Regions from separate parts of the Homo sapiens genome. Here region 1 is linked to region 2. The links come from fine-mapping of genetic effects on plasma protein levels. A gene starts in region 2. The other region holds a variant in brackets. All regions are shown on one strand. Distances are from middle to middle.

Region 1 (10,311 bases), 22 kb before region 2:
CCGATGCATATAGTTATATACACAACCGCTGTGAAGACAATGAAAAGTGTCATTACCTGAACATTTCCTCCCTCTGCTGACTCTAGGTAGTCAATCCTCCCTCTACACTTAGTCCCTGAGAAAACACGGATCTATTCTCCATCCCTGCCATTTTGCCTTTTTATAGAATGTCATATAAATGGAATCATACAAAATGTATCCTCTAAAATCTGGCTTCATTTACTTGGCATAATGCTTTTGAGGCTCATCTATGGGGCTGGGTATAAATCTGTCATTTTAGTTTAATTGTTGACTGGTGCTCCATTGTTTTCATGGTCTCTCATTTTGCATGTATTTGCCATTTGCGGAGCATTGCAACTGTTTTCAGGTTCTGGTGACTCTAAAATAATGTTGCTATAAACATTCCATTCAACTTTCTGCGTGTGAACATAAGTTTTTAATTCCCTTGAGTAAAAACCTAGGAGTCGAGTGCTTGGTCAGACGTACACTTGGTCAAGTGTAAGTTTAAATTTATACAAAATTGACAAACTATTCTCCAAAGTGTATATACCATTTTGTATTCCTACCAGCAGTAGACATGAGCTCTGATCACTTCACATCCTTGCTAGCATGTGATATCATCCACATATTTTAAAATTTCTTGTTACCTTTGTTGTACTTTTCAGTCATTTTTCTTAGGTATGTAATTCTACCTCATTCTTCTTCTATTCTACAATTACCTAATGACAAATTATATTGAGGCTATTTTCACGGCCTTGTTCGCCATCTGCTTTTCTTTTTTGGTGAGGTGGCTATGAAATCTTCAGTAGCTTTTTTCTTAATTGTGGTAAAATATACAGAAGAAAAAAATTACCGTTTTAACTATTTTTCAGTGTTTAGAGAAGTTGCACCAAGTACACTCACGTTGTTATGAATCACTATGATTTATCTCCAGAAGTTTCTTCACCTTCCCAAACTGAAACTGCATCAAAGAGGTGAAAACCCCCTATTTCTTTCTGATCACAGCCCCTGGCAAGCATGGCTCTACTTTCCGTGTCTGTGAATTTGCCTCCTCTACACACCTCATATAAGTGGAATCATACAGTGTTTGTCCTGCTGTGACTGACTTAGAATATATTTAAGGTTCATCCACGCTGCATCATGTGCTAGCTTCTCCTTCTTTTTTTTTTTTTTTTTTTTTTTTGTTGTTGTTTGAGACGGAGTTTCACTCTTGTCGCCCAGGCTGGAGTGTGATGGCGTGATCTCAGCTCACTGCAACCTCCACCTCCCAGGTTCAAACAATTCTCCTGCCTCAGCCTCCTGAGTAGCTGGGATTACAGGCACCTGCCACCAGGCCCGGCTAATTTTTTTTTTTTTTTTTTTTTGAGACAGAGTTTCGCTCTTGTTGCCCAGGCTGGAGTCCAGTGGCGTCATCTTGGCTCACTGCAACCTCCACCTCCCAGGTTCAAGCAATTCTCCTGCTTCAGCCTCCCGAGTAGCTGGGATCACAGGTACGTGCCACCACACCTGGCTAATTTTGTATTTTTAGTAGAGATAGGGTTTCACCATGTTGGTCAGGCTGCTCTCAAATGCCTGACCTCAGGTGATCCACCCGCCTCGGCCTCCCAAAGTGCTGGGATTACAGGCGTGAGCCACCGTGCCCGGCCTGTATTTTCTTTTCTTTTTTTTTTTTTTTTTAGTAGAGATGGGGTTTCACCATATTGGCCAGGCTGGTCTCGAACTCCTGACCTCAGGTGATCCACCTGCCTCGGCCTCCCAAAGTGCTGGGATTACAGGTGTGAGCCACCATGCCTGTCTCCTTGGTTTTTTTGTTTGTTTTGTTTTTTGTTTTCTTTTTCTTTTTCTTTTTTTTTGAGATAGGGTCTTGCTCTGTTGCCCAGGCTGCAGTGCAGTGGCATGATTGGGCTCACTGAAACCTCTGCCTCCCAGGTTCAAGCGATTCTGCTGCCTCAGTCTCCCGAGTACCTGGGATTACAGGCACATGTCATCATGCCTGGCTAATTTTTATATTTTTAGCAGAGATGGGGTTTCATCATGTGGGCCAGGCTGGTCTAGAACTCCTGACTTCAAGTGATATGCCCACCTCGGCCTCCCAAAGTGCTGGGATTACAGGCGTGAGCCACCATGCCCCAGCCCAGCTTCTCCTTCTATTTTAAGGCTGAGTAATATTCAATTGCATGTATACAATACACTTTGTTTATTCATTCACTTTTTAGGAATAGCAGGGTTGCTTTTCCCTTTTACCTACTGTGAATATGCTTCTGTGAACACAGATGCATAAAACTATGCTCAAGTTCCGGCTTTTGATCTTTTGGGCCATATACCCAGAGGTGAAATTGCTGGATCATAAGATCATTCTATTTTTAATTTTTTTGAGGAACCCCACTACTACTCTCTAGAGCAACTTCACCATTTAACTTTCCCATCAGCAATGCACAAGAGTTCCAATGCATAAGAGATCACATGGACAGCTCAGCAAGCTGAATAATGGCCACCCAAAGAAATACAGTCTCAGCTCCTTGAACTTCTAAATATTACCTTACAAATAAAGTGTCTTTGTATAATTTTTTTTGAGACAGTCTCACTCTGTTGCCCAGGCTGGAGTGCAGTGGTGCGATCTCAGCTCACTGCAACCTCCGCCTCCCAGGTTCAAGTGATTCTCCTGCCTCAGCCTCCTGAGTAGCTGGGATTACAGACGCCCGCCGCCACACCCAGCTAACTTTTGCATTTTTGGTAGAGACCAGGTTTCACCATGTTGGCCAGGCTGGTCTCGAACTCCTGACCTCGAGTGATCCACCAGCCTCAGCCTCCCAAAGTGCTGGGATTACAGGCATGAGCCACCATACTTGGCCACTGTGCAGAGAATACTGTAGCCACATGGAATACATGTGGTTAGGGCACTGTGTTAGCTAGTCTGGGCTGCCATAGCAAAATACTATAAATTAAGCCTCCTATAAACAACAGAAATTTATTTCTCACAATTCTGGAGGTTAGAAGTCCAAGGTTAGAAGATCAAGTTGTCAGATGATTTGTTTTCTTGTGAGGCTCTGTTTCCTGGCTTGTAGATGCCACCTTCTCACTGTGTCCTCACATGGTTGAGAGACAGCAAGTTCTGTGGGGTCTCTGCTTATAAGGGCACTGTATTAGTCCGTTTTCACACTGCTGGTAATGACATACCTGAGACTGGGCAATTTACCAAAGAAAGAGGTTTAATGGACTTACAGTTCCACGTGGCCGGAGAAGCCTCACAATCATGGCAGAAGGTGAAAGTCATGTCTCATATGGCGGCAGACAAGAGATGAGCTTGTGCAGGGAAACTCCCCTTTTTAAAACCATCAATCTTGTGAGAATTATTCACTATCATGAGAACAGCACAGGAAAGACCTGCCTCCATGATTCAATTACCAGCCGCAATGTCCCTCCCACAACACGTGGAAATTCATGATGAGATTTGGGTGGGGACACAGCCAAACCATATCAGGCACTAATTCCATAGTGGGTCCCCACCCTCATGACCCCATGTAACATAATTACCTACAAAAAGCCCCATCTCCAAATACATCACATTGGTGGTTAGGGCTTCAACATATGAATTTTGGGGGAACATAAACATGCAGTTCATAACAGGCATTTTACTGAAACCTTGTCATCTCCCATGCCATGAGTTTAGATCAACAAATAATCATGCGGAAAAAAAATCTATATAGAAATTTCTTACAGCAAAGCCTCTGCTCATTTTTTCGATAATCTCATTTTTTTAAATTGCAAGGAACAGAAATGAAAACCGATAGCTTAATCTGGAAAAGAAGGGTTTTATTAAAAAAACACGTTTGCTTAATTTTTGGCCCAGGCAGTGGGGAATCTGGGAACATCTCCTAACTCAAGGTCAAGATCAGCACATCACTGATATCCAATGTGACCCTCAGGGTGCTGTTTCTTGCTCTCCGCATGGTGGGCTGCAGGTGCCTGAGCCATCTTCATTCTCTGGCTAGCAATGTTCGTGCAATGTGAGGTCTCCCCAGCTCAAGGCTCATGCCGTTCCTGCAGCTGAAAGGGAGAGCAACACCTCCATCCTGTAAGCTCCAACAGCATCTTCCCGACAGCCACGAGGAGCCACATCCAGTTCTTTCCTCCATGTTTTTATGAGCGAATAGGTTGACTGGAGTTTGAACTTCTGGGTTCAAACCCTCAGAAGTTCAAGGTTCAATCCCCCATTGACCTATTCCCACACTCGATATCCATGATAAGAATGATTCTCAGGGTACATTGGGCTTGTTGACAAAGAAAGGAGGATTTTTTATAAGAATTTCCATCTCTGACTTTTGTCCAACAATTAGATTCTATTCCTTGTTTCTAAATGAAAATATGAAGAAACACATCCTTTCGGAACTAAAATAAATAACACTTTGAAGTTGAAACAGAGAAAATATGAGGCTGCACATGGAATTAGTAGGAAATTATGCTCTCATTTGAGGTTATTCTGATTTCGCCAAGGAAGATTTAAGCTCAAAAGGTAAGGTGGACAGGGAATCACCCCATGGTGAGACACATAGGGATATTCGGGCATAGAGTACAAGCTAATTAAGCTTGATATGTACGAGGAATTTCTCTTAGTAATCAATGAGAATGTGAAGTGTACAGAAAATAACTTTTGATGAACAAGGAAGAGCACATGAATTTACATACAAGAAATCTTTCCTCACTGGGCAAAAAGCTCATTCAATTTCTTTCTTTTTTTCAAGCCAGAGTCTCTGTCACCCAGGCAGGAGTGCAGTGGCATGATCTTGACTCACTGCAGCCTCAACCTCCTTGGTTCAAGAGATTCTTGTACCTCAGCCTCCCAACTAGCTGGGATTACAGTCGTGTGTCACCACGTCCCACTAGTTTTTTGAATTTTTGGTAGAGATGAGGTTTTGCTATGTTGGCCAGGCTGGTCTCAAACTCCTGGCCTCAAGTAATCCTCCCAGCTTGGCCTCCCAAAATGCTGGAATTACAGGTGTGAGCCATCATGCCCAGCTTTATTCAGTTCCTTAAGGAGGATGAGCAGCATTGAGCGGATGGGAATGTGCCTTCTCTGGAGACAGGTTTGCATGTAGAGATGCCATCATAATTTATAAGGACAGGTTTTCTCTTTTTTCCTATTTTTTAGAGATGGTGTTTTGCCATGTTTCCCAGGCTAGTCTCCAACTCCTGGGCTCAAATGATCCACTTGCCTTGACCTCCCAAAGTGCTGGGATTACAGATGTGAGCCACTGTGTATGGCTTTCTTTTTTCCTTTCCTTTTCTTTTCTTTTCCTTTTTAGACGGAGTCTCACTCTGTCACTCAGGCTGGAGTGCAGTGGTGCGATCTCGGCTCACTTCAACCTCCACCTCCTTGGTTCAAGCGATTCTCCTGCCTCAGCCTACCGAGTAGCTGGAACTCCAGGCGCGCACCACCATGCCCAGCTAATTTTTGTATTTTTAGTAGAGACAGGGTTTCACCATGCTGGCCAGGATGGTCTCCATCTCTTGACCTTGTGATCCGCCCACCTCGGCCTCCCAAAGTGCTGGGATTATAAGCGTGAGCCACCGCGCCCGACCCCAGGACAGGTTTTCTAAGGCTCATGGCCCTTGGCCATTTGCTGCATGATCTCCATCTCCATAGGGCTTTGTAGCAGCTCTCATTGCCTCTCCCACAATTCATGCATCAGGCAATGCCCAGGAACCACAAGAGTATAATTAATATTCACATTCAAAATCATAGTTGTTTCTATTCAATGTTATAGCATGCTTTTTTTTTTTTTTTTGGCTTTTAATGAAAAAAAGCATTGATTTCTGTTGTCT[T/G]GGAAATCAGAGGGGTAGACCTGGCTTCAACGGTGGCTGGATTTCAGGGTCCGATGATATAAGGGCTCATCTCTCTGTTTGCTTTTGGCTCTTGTTCTTGTTTGTTGTTGCTGCTGTGGTTGTTCATTTATTCTGCCTGGTTTTTGTTCTCAGGCTAATAAATGTAGGAGCTCTGATGTCCACTTTGCAGATGAGGACGCTGAGGCATACAGAGATCAAGTAATTTCCCTTCTGAGGCAGAGTCCGTGGACTTCCCACAGCCCCATGACACCCCCTTATGGCTGTGTATCCAACTCAACATTCCCTGCCCTGATCAGGGCGCCCCCTGCTGCTCACCCAGAGATTTGCCAGGATCCCTGCACCAATCTCCTCCACCCTTTTTGACTCCCAAATGCTTCTTGACACCTGACTCCCACCCTGTCACTCAGAGACTAACCTATGTCAAGATTTACAAACTCCCCGGGTGCGGTGGCTCACGCCTGTAATCCCAGCACTTTGGGAGCCCGAGGCGGGCGGATCACCTGAGGTCAGGAGTTCGAGACGAGCCTGGCCAACATAGGGAAACCCCCATCTCTACTAAAAATACAAAAAGTAGCTGGGCGTTGTGGCAGGCGCCTGCAATCCCAGCTATTTTGGGAGGCTGAGGCGACAGAATCGCTTGAACCTGAGAGTCAGAGGTTGCAGTGAGCCGAGATCGCGCCATTGCACTCCAGCCTGGACAACGAGAGAGAAACTCTGTCTCAAAAAAGAAGAAGAAAAAAAAAAAAACTAAACAAACAAAAAACAAACCCCCAAAAACAAAGATTTACAATCTTACCAAACAGGAATGGTAACTACAGGAAGTAGTTACTATCTGAGGTTATTGGTAATGTTATTGCTATTGTTAATGTCACTTTTTTTTCCCACTCCCATTTTCTCTGGAAGCCGTTTGGGAGGTCCTGCCTCTCACCTTCTCTATCCACTTCTTACTCCTACCAGAGGTTGTAGACAAAGATGAGGGTTGATGCATTGTGCAACTCTGTGGCTCCCCCTAGTGATATGATACATTTGGGGTGATGGGGTTTGCCTAGACAGGGCCCCAAGGATGCTGGTAGGGAGCAGGTAGGGAACCCCACCTTGTGTACAGCTCCTCAAAAATCCCAGGTTAACATTCCATTTGGTCTCCAGGCCTGATAAATGGGGAGGAGTGGCTGTTCATTAGTGTGCACTCTGGCTGCACCGGGCAGGACTTTGCCCCGGGAGGGACTGTGACGTTCTGCTCTCTTGGTAAGAAGGTACAAAGCTGGGCTCCAGAAATGGATTGAGAGCTCCTTGGGTCTGCTCCCCAGGCTGCCACCCGCCCCCAGGTGAGCCCTGGATACTGCTATTCCTGACTGAAGAGACAGGGTTTTGGACAAGGTGCTCCAGAAGGCCAGATTTCTCTCTGGGCAAGGTTCATGTGTTTCCCACACAAGTCTACTTCTGGGATTCTTCATGGATCTACAAATCGGACTAGGCAAAAGCTGTGCATGCTGCTGTGTATACAAAATAGTAAACCCTGATATAGACGATGGACTTTGGGTGCTAATACCGTATCAATGGAGGTTCATCAAGTATGACAAATGTACCACTCTGGTGGGAGATGCTGATAATAGAGGAGGTTATGCATGTGTGGGGGCAGGTGGTATATGGAGAATCTCTGTACCTTCTGCTCAATCTGTGAACCTAAACTGCTCTAAAAATTATGTCTATCCCGTCATATGCTTCTGGGAAAAATTGTCTATATATATTTTTTAAATGGAAAGAACTGGCTGGGCATAGTGGCTCAAGCCTACATCTCAGCACTTAAGGAGGCTGAAGTGGGAGGATTGCTTGAGTCCATGAGTTTGAGATCAGCCTGGGCAACATAGGCAGACTCTGTCTCTACAAAAAAAAAAAAAAAATTAGCTAGGCATGGTAGTGCATGCTTGTGGTCCCAGCTACTCGGGAGGCTGAGGCAGGAGGACTGCCTGAGCCTGGAGGGTTGAGGCTGCAGTGAACCATGATCATGCCACTGCACTCCAGCCTGGGCAACAGAGCAAGACCCTGTTTCAAAACAAATTGAAAAAAGCTTAATGCTCCTAAATAGGGTATTGGTTGAATAAGTCAACACACATCAAATTCAGTGGAATACTATGCAGCCATGAATAATTAACAGTAGTGGTGCAGAGCTGTTGCTTCTCCAGTGGGGATCCAGGACCCAAGGGCAGGGCGTGAAAAGTGCTTCAGAGGAGCTAAAGGCAGAAGGTCCACTTTGCATATCTTCTGGGGATGTCATTTATACTCAAATACTGAGTCAGGTCAATCAGACAACTTTAGTGACAATGAATGCATTATTTTCCCGTTGAAACTAACAGAAACGTGTTTTTCCATAGGCCACAAACATTCATAGGGACTTTCAGAGTAAAACAGAAGACTTCAGAGATATTTTGTAATTATATCTAGATACAGAAGACTTGAGATATTTTGTAAATATATGCTAGACACTCAGAGCTGTATATTCACCTTCCTCTGATTAAATTTGCCCTTAATGTTTCAGAATTCCTAATAAAGGACATTTAAGAATATGATCCCACTTTGGTAAACATTATGTATATGTGCATGAGTGTATATAACACATCAAAACTGAAAAGAGAGGATGGCAGATTGCAGGCATTGTTAGCCGGCCTCTCCCACCTTGGAAAGATGAAACAGTGTATAAAGATTTATGTTGTGACCTTTTCACCAGGGACCAACACAGGAACTTAACAGGAAAACTGGAAGAAACCACAGACCTTTCTAAAGAAACGGTGGGCAGCAGCCTACACCACGAGCCAGACAGAAAACTGTGAGTCCCCACAGTGTGAGAAGGGGAGAGACTGACTCAGGGATGTGCACTCCCACTGGGGTGCCACGCAGTCCAGGCCACAGGAGGGGGAAGCCCTCACCCTGCCCAGCACTGGAGCTGAGTTAGGGAGCGTTGGGGAGTAGATAAGGAGTCACATTGGGATGTGCTTGGCGTGCAGTCCTGGGCTCCAGCAGGGACAGAGGGAAGCCATTCCCGATGCTACCTCACAGGGGGCCTTGCAGAAGCCAGCTAGCTGACTCAGGAGGCGGTCACGGGTTGAGAGAAGCTCCCGACTGAGATCTGCAATGTCATCTTGAGTGGGGAAAGTAGACTTGCCCGAAATCTAAGACTCATAGGTGTTCTTGAGGGAGAAGAAAAAGCAAAAAGTTGAGAAAATTCAATGATTGGAAAGATACAGAATCAACCTAAGTGCTCTTCAACCCGAAGGAAAGGCTACAAAAGAATACACATCCCTGAGTCAGTCTCTCCCCTTCTCACACTGTGGGGACTCACAGTTTTCTGCCTGGCTCGTGGTGTAGGCTGCTGCCCACCGCTTCTTTAGAAAGGTCTGTGGTTTCTTCCAGTTTTCCTGTGAAGTCTCTGTGTTGCTCCCTGGTGCAGCTGCAGCGTAAGTAGGTTAGACAGGCGTTTCACAGCCTCCCTTACACAGCCTCCCTTAAAGGGAAACACATTTGCTAAATAGACGGAGAGAACAATCCGCCGGACAGCTCGCAAACCCCGACAGCGCATAAACCGCATCCTGGGCTCGTGGTCAAAACATCCTGTAGCAAGGAGGTAGAAGGGAAGAAGGGACAGTCCCCATATCCGTGCAAGTGCAGAAACCCATGCTTAGGTAGTGTCCTTGGGCTGACCTATGCTCATTATAATAGTGAAAACACACCCTCACGTGGAGACTTAAGGTGCTACTGAGACAGCGATGTATATGCACTAGCATGTACAGCCATTGCGCATGCGGGCCTAACAGACCACCCAGAACACGCTTAAGAGCAACACCGTCCCACCCACGCATGAGTAATCACGGAAGATTCCCCTAAAGGGAGTTTCCCCAGCGTCAGTCAGCGCTGTCTCACCTTTGAGCAGCCGCTCTGACCAGCTGTTAAGAGTGCACGTTCACTTTGCAATTAACTCTCTTGCTTACTTTTACCTTGGACTCACTCTCGAATTCTTTTCTTGAGGCAAAGTCAAGAACCGGAACTGGCCCACCAGCCATAGCAGGGGAGACTGTGTGTGCCGCGGTGCAGGCAGCACTCATGCCGGGAATGGTGAGGATGGCACCAGCTTGTCGGATTTTTTGTTGGCATTTGTGTTTGTTTCTCTACTCACCACCCAAGTGATAAAATAGGATCCTTGGTGTGGAACTTAGAATTATGCCAAAAAGCTAACAGTTCTCCTTTCTAGCCAGCTACAAAGCCAGACCATGCCCACCACTGCCATGCTTGCAAAACGGGTCACCACGGCCTGTAGGTGAGCAGTTGTGTAGGAGAAAAGAATCCAATTTTTTTGTGTGCTCTTTACTATTATGTAGACAGCTCCGTCTTCAGCCCACACTTTGGTTCCCTGTGGATTTCAGTTTGTGTCCTGTGTCTGAGGACAGCGGACTGAATACAGTGATTTTTTACCTC
Region 2 (10,311 bases):
ATGGATGGTGGGGCCCGAGGTTGCTACAGATGTGGAGCCCCACAGACAAGGACGCTCGTGAAATGCTCACCGTGCACCCGTGAGCTCATTCTTGCCCCAAGCCCTGGACCCATCCAGGTCCTTCCAGCTCTGGCTTCAGGGATTCTGTTCCCGGTCTGCCCTGCCCCAGGTCTCTCTCTCCCTCCCCAGGGTCAATGCTCACATGATGAAGATGATGCAGAAGGACAGGAAGGCCAGGGCTGTGGCTCCAGCTCCCCCGACTGCTGCCAGTGTCACTTGTGATACAGGTCTTGAGGTGCCTGCAGATGGATTGGAGTTGCTTTGGGGATTTATATCACGGAGAAGTGGGTCTCTTCCCCTCCCACTGTCTGCAGGGCCCTAGACTTCCATTCCCCTCTTCTCCTTCCCAGACACAGAATACGAATGGGAGGGAGGAAAGGAGACTACTTCTGAGGCCAGTGAGGCATGAGAGTGCTGGATGCAGCTTGTCTTGCCTTTATTTACAATTTTGATATTGTGTTCTTGTGGAATCATTTTGCATTCAATTTTAGTTTTTTCAAAAGATCATGGCATTGCAATATTACTTTACTTGCTTTCTGAGTTGGGTTTTTCTTTGGCTTCTTAAATTTGGTGCCAAGGCAAGTGCCTCATGTGCCTCATCCTAGTCTAAGCACTGCAAAGCAAGGCGCTTGTCCCTCCAAACACACCTGGCCGGGCCCCAGCTCCTCCCCTCCAAGACCCACTCCTCCCCTCTCCCCACCCCGCACCCCTTTCCTGGCGGGGAGAGGACAGTGATGCTCTGGGTCGCAGGGAAGTTCCAGGCCTCACAGCTGAGCACAGACCAGAGCTGAGCTCCCCCTTGAAGCTCAGGGGCAGTGGGTGGTCCATGAGGGTGGGGCAGGTGTGTTCTCCTCCTCCAGCCCCTCCCTTACCCACCTGTGCCCTCATTCTGCAGGGAGAGGCTCAGGGAAATGTGCTGGGAGCCCTGAGCGTTCTGAGCTCGGCAGGTGAATTCCCCTTCATCCCTCACGTGCACTCGAGGCAGCTCCAGCAGCCCAGGGTTTGAGGACCGTGAGGGGCACAGGGTCAGGCTCCCCCGGGTCCAGCTCAGCCTGGCAGGGGGATTGCTGTTGACAGCACAGACCAGGCGCAGAGACTGGCCCTCAAGGACTGAAAGAGATGAGCCATTTCCCAGGGCTGTGGATGCTGCAGAGAAAGAGACAGAGGGTCATCCCATTACTGGGTATATACCCAAAGGATTATAAATCATGCTGCTATAAAGACACATGCACATGTATGTTTATTGTGGCACTATTCACAATAGCAAAGACTTGGAACCAGCCCAAATGTCCAACAATGATAGACTGGATTAAGAAAATGTGGCACATATACACCATGGAATACTATGCAGCCACAAAAAATGATGAGTTCATGTCCTTTGTAGGGACATGGATGAAGCTGGAAACCATCATTCTCAGCAAACTATTGCAAGGACAAAAAAACAAACACCGCATGTTCTCACTCATAAGTGGGAACTGAACAATGAGAACACATGGACACAGGAAGGGGAACATCACACACCGGGGACTGTTGTGGGGTGGGGGGAGGGATAGCATTAGGAGATATACCTAATGCTAAATGACAAGTTACTGGGGGCAGCACACCAACATGGCACATGTATACATATGTAACAAACCTGCACGTTGTGCACATGTATCCTAAAACTTAAAGTATAATAATAATAATAATAATAAAAGGAGACAGAGGGTCAGAGAGACAAATGGATCCAGAGAAAGAGGAAGGACACAGAAAGAGACTAGTGAGAGGGACTGACACACAGACATAGACTGAAGTGCAGGAAAACGCACACTCAGTGCTGGGAATGTAAACTTGTCCACTTTTAATTGAGAACAACTTCACTGCATCTTTCAAAATTAGAAACAACATACGACACTGGTATATTTTGCTTTTAGGAATTTATCCCATACACTTAGATATTCCTGTGGAAGTAGATACAAGACTATCCACTGCACAGTTTCTGCGGAAGGATATTTGTGCCATGATTTTCCTTAAGGGATGCCACAAAGTCAGAGTCCATCTGTGCAGTGAAATCACACACGGTCCTAGAGGACGGGGTGGACAGTCTCACTACGATGTCAAACCACCTCTGAGATCCTCCAGGTGCACAAACCAAGACTCAGGGCAGCCTGGACGGACGCTGGTCAGTTCCGTGGAGGGGGATGGGCACTGGAGGACAGACTTTGCTGTGCATTTTGAATTTCTGCCCATGTGACTGTATCATCTGGGCAGAAGTACTTAGATCGAAACTACTGGGAAAACAGAAAGATCAGACAGAGGAAGTATTCAGGAGATGCCTGACAAGAAACTTGAAAGTCTGGTCCCAAAATAAAAACGAACAAAAACCAAAAAAATTGGGAGTCTGATCCAGCTGTGTGAATGTCACCCTGTCCTTGCTGTGGGGCCAAGGAAGGGGTGTGTGGAGGAGTCTAAGGGGAGCAGGGACAGGATGGGGACAGGGGCTCAGATGGTCACGCGGGCTGGAGATGTGGGCTCTTGTGCCCTGGGCTCACGCACAGTGGCAGCTCTGTTTCCCAAAGTGATTCCAGGATGAGGAGAGACCCAGCCCCATCCTGAGCTGAAGGCCCTGCTCCCCCAACCCCAGGGAGGGGGCTCTGTCCTACCTGTGGCATCTCCTTGGAAGACAGTCATGGTCAAGTTCCAAGGAGGGTCTGGGACAGAAAGACATGAAGACCCACATTACTATAAGGACTGGGGACATTGGCCCTGTCTTCCCAGGAGCTGCAAATACAGGGAAAATGGAGTCGGCATTCTCCTGACCCCACTCCCAGCCCAGATTCTGGGACCCAGAACCCAGTGTCCAGGCTTGAACCCCATCCCCTGCCCTCAGGAACACCTCCCAACCCATGAGGGACCTGGGCATCTTGGTCCAGCACTCACAGGACACATCGAGGCGGACGGTACTGGTCGTGGTCACACCTGTCCCAGGCAAGGTCACCTGACAGGTGAGGCTGGTGCCGTGGTCCTGGGGCTTTGGGGTAAGGGTGAGCACTGAGGAGCGGGCAGTAGTGGGGCCCGGGGAGGACACGGAGGCCCCAATCCAGGAGATCATGGGGGGTGTCCCCTGCTTACAGGCCCAGGGCACAGAGCAGGTCAGGTTCCTGGAGTGGCCAGACTCTAGGGTCCCTAGGATGAGGATGTCAGGCCTATGGGTCAGGGCTGGTGAAGATGGGGACACAGGATCAGGAGGAGGTATTTCAGGTGCAGCCCTGGAGGAAGCTCAAGCTCTGGTCCAGCTCCTCCCCGGAGACCGACTTATTTCAATCCCAACCCCCTCCCAGGCCCCATCCCAGCCCTGCCTTTCAGCCCCTCATGACCTTCCCCTGTGGCCTGTGCTGGAGCCCGTGCCTTACCTGTCACAAACACAGACAGCTGCTTAGTTTTGTAATTCAACTGTGATTTGTAACTCCATTTCATGCTTCCTCTCTCTAGCCGAAAGAAATATGACCCCTTATCCCTCTTCCTGGCGTCTCTGATGCTCAGGGAGCAGTCGTTGCTCCAAATGTCCCCAAGGAGTTGGAATCGGCCCTGGGTCTCTGCCTGCACTTCTCTGTCTGGGTTGTTTGTGGCCACTGGAGCGTCTTGGTATGGTCTGTCTCCTGCCCGGAACCAGTAGCCATGAACTGGGTCAGAGTCAGTCCAGCCATCCTGGGGGTAGGAGAAGGAGCAGGGCACATGGACACACAGGCCCTCCTGCACCGTCACCAGCTCCTGCACTTGCAGCAAGTAACCATCCCCATATTGTCTGTCTCCCTCCATCCCCTTTGTCCCCCAGAGCAGGGGCAGCAGCAGCAGCAGCAGCAGCATGTCTGGGTTTGAAGGCGCCAGGGCCGCCAGGGAACGTCTGTTCCTCAGGGTTCTTCTCTCAGAAACTGAGGTCTCAAGACTTAGGGGAGGTCCCGCAGGAGGTTGGGGGTGAAGTCAGAAAAGTGACCTCCTCAGAGGAGGAACTTCACACACAGACACTGTCAGGGCCGGGTCAGTCCTGGGAGATCCACTGTCCACCACCCCATTTCCACTCCTGGGAACCCTGAGGCCAGAGAGGGTGAGAAACTCATCCAGATTCCCACCCTATGCAGGGCCCAACCTCTTTCTTGCTTCCCGGACTTGCCCTTCCATTTGGGTAACATTTTCTGCAAGGTGAAATTGGGTCCCATCTGGCCAGACCCCTGAATCACCCCCGGGGCTGTCACTGTTTGTGGAGGTCATACCAGCCAAAGGTGGAACTCAGGGCCATGAGAGACTGGGGTGCAGGTGAGGTGAGCAGGCAGCCTCTCCTCCCTCTCTCAGCAGCAACGAAGTGGGCACCTCCTCTTTACACAACGAGGTCAACAGAGCAGAGCCAGACACTGTCCTCAAGGAGTCACTGTGCAGAGGGGAGACACGGAGGCTCCTGACGTCTGAGCTCCCCAGGACGGGAGCTTCAGTGGGGGGCACAGGCAAGGTGGGGTCGTTCTCCCCTAGGTCAGGGGTTCAGTCTCAGGAGGCCTGAGCAGAGGGACACGGGGCTGTGGAGGTGAGGATTCTGCATGTTGATACACACGAAGGACGGGGGGCGGGGGGAAGCCTGGCTCGCAGGAGGCCTGGGAAACTGAGGCTGTAACTGTTGTACTGTGGGGTTTGGAAGGGAGAAATGTCAGAAGGGAAAGGGTCAATTTGAAAAGGGCACACACTTCTCCCTTTGTTGCAGCTATCTGGGTATCAGAATGGGTTTCTTCACCACCCGTATCTTACTCAGCCACACTTCCCCTGGTTACTGCACAGCAGGCGGGGTCTGTCAGCCCTGGGGCTTTGCTCCTGCAGGCTCTGCTTCCAGGGGTCCAGGTGAACAGGTGTCATGGAACGAGGACACCAGCCCTGGGGTGTGCACCTTCAGCGATGGGCAGGATTTCTTGAGAGAAGAAATGTGCACCTGAATTCAACAGATGATGATGATGATGATGATGATGATGATGATTATTATTATTATTATTATTATTATTATTTGAGACGGAGTCTCTCTCTGTCGCCAGGCTGGAGTGCAGTGGCGCGATCCCGGCTCACTGCAACCTCTGACTCCCTGGTTCAAGCGATTCTCCTGCCTCAGCCTCCCAAGTAGCTAGGATTACAGGCATACGCCACCACATCCAGCTAATTTTTGTATTTTTAGTAGAGCCGGGGTTTCACCATGTCGACCAGGATGGTCTGGATCTCCTGACCTCATGATCCACCCACCTCAGCCTCCCAAAGTGCTGGGATTACAGGTGTGAGCCACCGTGCCTGGCCTCAACAGATTATTTTAAACTGTGTGGCTGGGGGCTGGGAAGAAGTTAAGGGGGATCCTGGGAGGCGGAGCCTCCTTAGACTCAGGTCAATTTTCTTGAAACATTTTTTGGGGGGTAAATATAAGAAATATAGATAAAAACAACCCCCAAAGAAGACCTCAGTGATTTACATACAACGAGCCCCCTCCTAGAAATGGCACATTGACAAAGTCCCCAGCGCTGCTCATTTGTTTCTCCTTCTTATTGGCCACACCCCACTCCCTCCCAAACGATCCCCTAGCCTCACTTTGGTGCAAATTGCCTCAATGCTTTTCTATATAGTTTTATTATCTGAGCAGGCTGCATTTACTAAGCTTTTGCACGTTTTTCTGAAGACTTTGTATACACAGAAAATCAAACTCTACTTTCTTCCACTCAGCTTCATGGATCTGCCCGTCTCCTATCTTCCCCTCATTACTTATAACCTGGAGTAGATCATTCGGCTGTGATAATTGAGAAGGGAAGGTGCAGGGCTTGGGTGTGCATAGCCGACTCCCACCCCCATCACCAATGCTTGCATTTGTAGCTGGTATCTCATTCTGCAGCCATTTCCCCCTCCTGGGCCTCCTATCCTTGCCCAGTAGAGACAGCTGCAGTATCTCAATAGTCAGAAGGGCCGAGCCATGGCACAGGTCTTTTCCATGGTCCCCAAGTGGTAATTGAAGCCTTCAGTGAAGACTCCTGTGCAGGCCTTGCTCTCCAGCAACTTAGCCAGGCTGGAACTACAATTCCCAGAATCCCCTTCCCTGTTTGCTTCCTGGACAAAGTTCACCACAAGGGAAGGGGGAAGTTGGAGCAGCAGCCCTGAGGGGTCCGTGTAGGGGCAGGAGCTGTTGCAGCTCTCACATATTGACGCTGACCACTGGCCCATCTCATAGGGAGACACGATAGCCGCTCACTTGTTCACCTGCTGGACGGCAAGGAGGGCGTGTGGGACACCACGGGCTATGCCTTAGGGAGCAGAGAATCATTGAATCCTGACATGGGGATTGGTGACCCACATGGACACAGGTGGCCCAGAGAGACACATACAGTGACAGGCAAGGGATCCATAAAATGGCATCCCAAATAGTTCTCTCATCCTAAGACGATGTCCCAGGGTCTCTTTGACCTGACAACTAGCGCCATTCACCTTTTCAGGGGAGACCCAGCTTCCCAGGGCAAAGGGAAGGACACAGCGCATCTCAGTACCCAGAATGCCCAATGCTTGGGTGTGTGTGTGTGTGTGTGTGTGTGTGTGTGTGTGTGTGTGATTGAGAGAGAGAGAGAGACAGAGAGAGAGAGACCCTGTGTGTGAGGGAGAGGGAGTGTCTGTGTGTACCTGTGTGTTTCTGTGTATGAGCTGAGCACTGCCTCCTTGGGCAGTGTGACAGTTAATTTGATGTGTCAGCTTCACTGCCCTGGGAACCCCCATTCGTGTGTCCTTTCATAACCTCATTCCTTACCCTTCACATGCACATAGAGCATTTCTGTAATTACATTCACATAGATCTCCCTTTTCTCCCTAAAGAGGTCTGTCCCTGCATCTCGCCTCTGTGTGTCTCTGACGTCCAGAAAGCAGGTGCTGGCCTGGGGTCTGAAGCAGGTGGAATTGGCTCTGGGTCTCCTCCTGCTCTTTTCCAACTAGATTGCTTCCAGCCACTTGAGGATCCTGATGGAAATGTCCCCTTTCTGGGACAGTAGCCTTGGACAGGGCTGGAGTCAGACAGGTACCCACAGGGGTGGAAGATGGAGCAGTGCGTAGTCACAGAAACCCTCCTGCACCTGCACCAACTCTGGGGCTTCCTGCCGGGATCTCATATCCTGAGCCAGATCCCCTGTGGGGAAATGAGGGTCAGCCCAGCCCAGCCCCATGGTTCCTCTCCCTGAGGCCCATTCTCCTGCCCACAGCAGGGGCAGCAGCTATTGCAGCGTGAGCTTCTTTAGGGTGAGCCTTGGTGTCGCAGGGCCCTAGAAGGGCCCCACAGGAAGCCTGGGGGTAAGATCAGAAAAATAACTGACCACAAAAGAGGACCTTGGCCCCGACACTGCCAGAGCTGTCAGGGCTCCTGGGGAGTGGCCATTTCTACTCTCCGGATGGGTCTTCAGTGTGGGCCACACACAGCAGGGAGGCCCCGACCCACAGCTGCAGGCTCTCTGCCCACAGCCTTTCCCTCCCACAGCACTGTCCACACCAGGGAAGCAGGCACTGCCTGTCCATTACAGCTTCTAGGTGCTCGGGAGGGTCAGTCCTGCCAGAGCTGGGACTCAGGAGGGGCTGGCGGAGGAACCACGAGGCATGAGAGATGGGGAGGGGTCCCCCGAGGCGGGAGAGGTGATGTTTAATGAATGAGCACAATCACCACATCAGGAGCATCTCCTCCTTTCAGGGGGATGGAGGCAAAGGGGAGAGTGTGACAGACTCTGTCTCCTTCCTTGGGAAGTTCCCTAATGAACGAGGGGGCAGAGGAGCCCTGGGCCACCCCAGCTCCTGTTAGTAAGGGCTGTGATGCTTGAAACACAGGCAGGGCTTGTGGAACCCCGAGGGCCCTGTGCAGCTAGAAGGTGCGGTCTCAGGTATACTCGGGCAGAGTGGACGGGACCAGGACTCTGAGGTGCTGTGAGCATGCGGCCCCACAGGTGGTCCCCAGCCTTCCTAACCTTCTCAGTGCCCCCTGCCCAGCATGCCTGGTGGTGACTGCACAGCCGAGGCCCTGTGAGCCCAGCATGGGGAGCAAGGCTGAGCCCAAGATGCTAGGGGAGGCCCTGGCTCTGGAGTGTGAGGGTCCTGGGCCCTCTCCCTCCAAGTCTCAGTCTCCTCATCTGTCCCCTGGAGGGATCACAGCACCCACCCCTCAGCCTGAGGGAGAACCCAGCTCGAGGAGGCGACGTTCTCTGCAGACTCAGGCATGGCCAACATGCTCTGTGTCCCTGGGCAGGCCCGAAGCATCCACGTGTCTGGCCCTAACCATTCTCAGGGGTCACTCGGAGTCCTGCCCTCAGTAAGGAGCTCCTGGTGGTCCACACTGCTCTGGGGCTTCCTCAGCTGAGGCCTCACAGAGAGAGTTCAGGGGTACAGGCTCTGTAGCTGGATGGCTGCTGGCTTGAGCTGGGCTCTGTAAAACCCACGGTGCTGTCTTGGGAGGGGGCTTACCTGCACTGTGCATCGTCGGATGTCAACACTTACGGGGTGTCAGGGATGAACTGTGTCCCCTACAAATTCCTATGCTGAAGTCCTAACCCCCAGCACCTCAGAAAGTGACCATATTTGGAGACGAGGACTTATAAAAAGGTGACTAAGTTAAAATGAAGTTGTTAGCTCTCATCCTACATGAGCTGTGTCTTTATTAGAAGGGGTGATTAGGGGTGGAGTGTGGTGGCTCAGGCCTGTAATCCCAGCACTTCCGGAGACCGACACGGGCAGATGACTTGAGGTCAGGAGTTGGAGACCAGCTTGACCAGCATGGTGAAACCCCGTCTCTACTAAAAATACAAAAATTATCCAGACGTGGTGGCATGTGCCTGTAATCCCAGCTACTCCAGATGCTGAGGCGGAAGAATTGCTTGAACCCGGGAGACGGTGGCTGCCGTGAGCCAAAATGGTGCCACTGCACTCCAGCCTGGGCGACAGAGTGAGGCTCTGTCTCAAAAAAAAAAAAAAAAAAAAAAAAAAGGTGTGATTAGGACAGCGACATACTCGGGAGAAAGACCACGTGGGACACAGGGAGAAGATGCCACCCGCAAGCCACCGAGAGGCCTCAGAAGGAAGCAACGCTGACCACAGCTTGGTCTCAGACTTCCAGCCTCCAGAAGGGTGGGAAAACAAAGGCGTTGGTGAAGCCACTCGGTCTGTGTTCCTTTCTCAAGGCGGCCCTGGCAAGAGAGTCCATGGAGTGGTCGAGAGGATTCGATGTGTTCCTGTGAGCACAGCCCGGTGTGGACCGCGGTGGATGCAGAGTCCCACAGGGGTCTGGGACAGCCTGTAACATGGGATGCTCAGAGGATGGAAGGAGAAAAGGGAAGGGAAGGGCTCCTCACCAGAGGAAACCTGTGCTGCTGCCGCCCTGTCTCTGACATCTGCAGGGCTGCCCCCTCCACCCACACTCTCCCTCCCTCCCCAGGACCGGGCAGGGCTCTCAGCCGCAGCCCCTCGCTGCCCCTGCACCCTGGGCAGTTGCCTCCCATCTATGGGGCGGAGCCGCCTGGGCGTCTGGGCTGGGCGAGGCGGAGCCTGGAGGGGCACCGGCCACGGGCAGGGGAGACAGAGGCGGGCACAGCCTGGCGGGGTCCGGGCTGAGCCAGCGGGGAGGACGGGGCTGTGGGAGCCCAGCGGAGAGGGTGAGGATCCGCGGGCAGGTGGGACAGGTGAGCTGGGAGGTGAGAGATGGGCAGGGCTGCCTGAAAGGCAAGTTCATCCCAGAGCAGCGAGCAGGGCGCAGCCAAAGGCCGTGGGGGAAACAGCGGCGAGAAAAAAACGGCCAAAATTCTGCCCGCAGTGCGCCTGTATCCTAGTGCGGCGGCCACAAAAATATTGTTGAGTAGCAAGAAGTGTTTCGAAAGTGTGCAGTGGGTAAAGTGTGAGAAAATAAAGCCGATTTCATCGAGAAAAAGAGAGACAGAGAGAGAAAGGGCCCATATCAACCCAAAGTCATTACTCTTCATCACGATTATATTGCATTTTTCCCATCTACTACAGCGTTAACTTCATATAAACTTTATGAAGACATACCTTACGTATAATAAAAAGCACACATTGTAAGCATACAGTTAAATTAGTTTTGGCAAATGTAAACACCCTGTAACTATGTCCTCAATCAAGATAGGGAATCTTTTTTTCATCCCTCCAAGCTTTCTTATTTTCTTTCTTTTCTTTTTTTTTTTTTTTTTTTTTTTGAGACGGAGTCTCGCTCTGTCGCCCAGGCTGGAGTGC

Alleles and levels. Alleles are on the strand shown, and positions count from the first base shown. The strength of an association depends on the size of the effect and on how common the allele is.
As copies of T replace G in region 1, the plasma level of the protein whose gene starts at base 3,973 in region 2 goes down (strong association).

The links. A credible set is the group of variants that fine-mapping cannot tell apart. PIP is the chance, under the fine-mapping model, that this variant and not a neighbour inherited with it causes the effect. Protein levels are from antibody-based Olink assays in UK Biobank. Linkage for the fine-mapping came from a reference panel and not from the study's own genotypes, which makes the PIPs less certain.
Region 1: its variant is the best candidate, but not a certain one, in a credible set for the plasma level of the SIGLEC8 protein (UK Biobank, PIP 0.68).

The regions. Positions count from the first base shown.
Region 1 is chr19:51,432,281-51,442,591 of GRCh38, forward strand. No RefSeq gene overlaps it. Among named protein-coding and RNA genes, the nearest start is that of SIGLEC10, 20 kb to the left of the region's middle. RefSeq lists a silencer at 6,352-6,522 and enhancers at 9,043-9,332, 9,633-9,772. The variant T/G (reference allele first, on the strand shown) is at 5,824.
Region 2 is chr19:51,454,482-51,464,792 of GRCh38, forward strand. It overlaps SIGLEC8 (sialic acid binding Ig like lectin 8), which reads right to left and starts at 3,973. Exons shown (of 7, transcript NM_014442.3): 1 at 3,453-3,973; 2 at 2,980-3,258; 3 at 2,703-2,750; 4 at 937-1,206; 5 at 203-299. The coding sequence starts at 3,906. It also overlaps the pseudogene SIGLEC25P. RefSeq lists an enhancer at 8,736-9,484.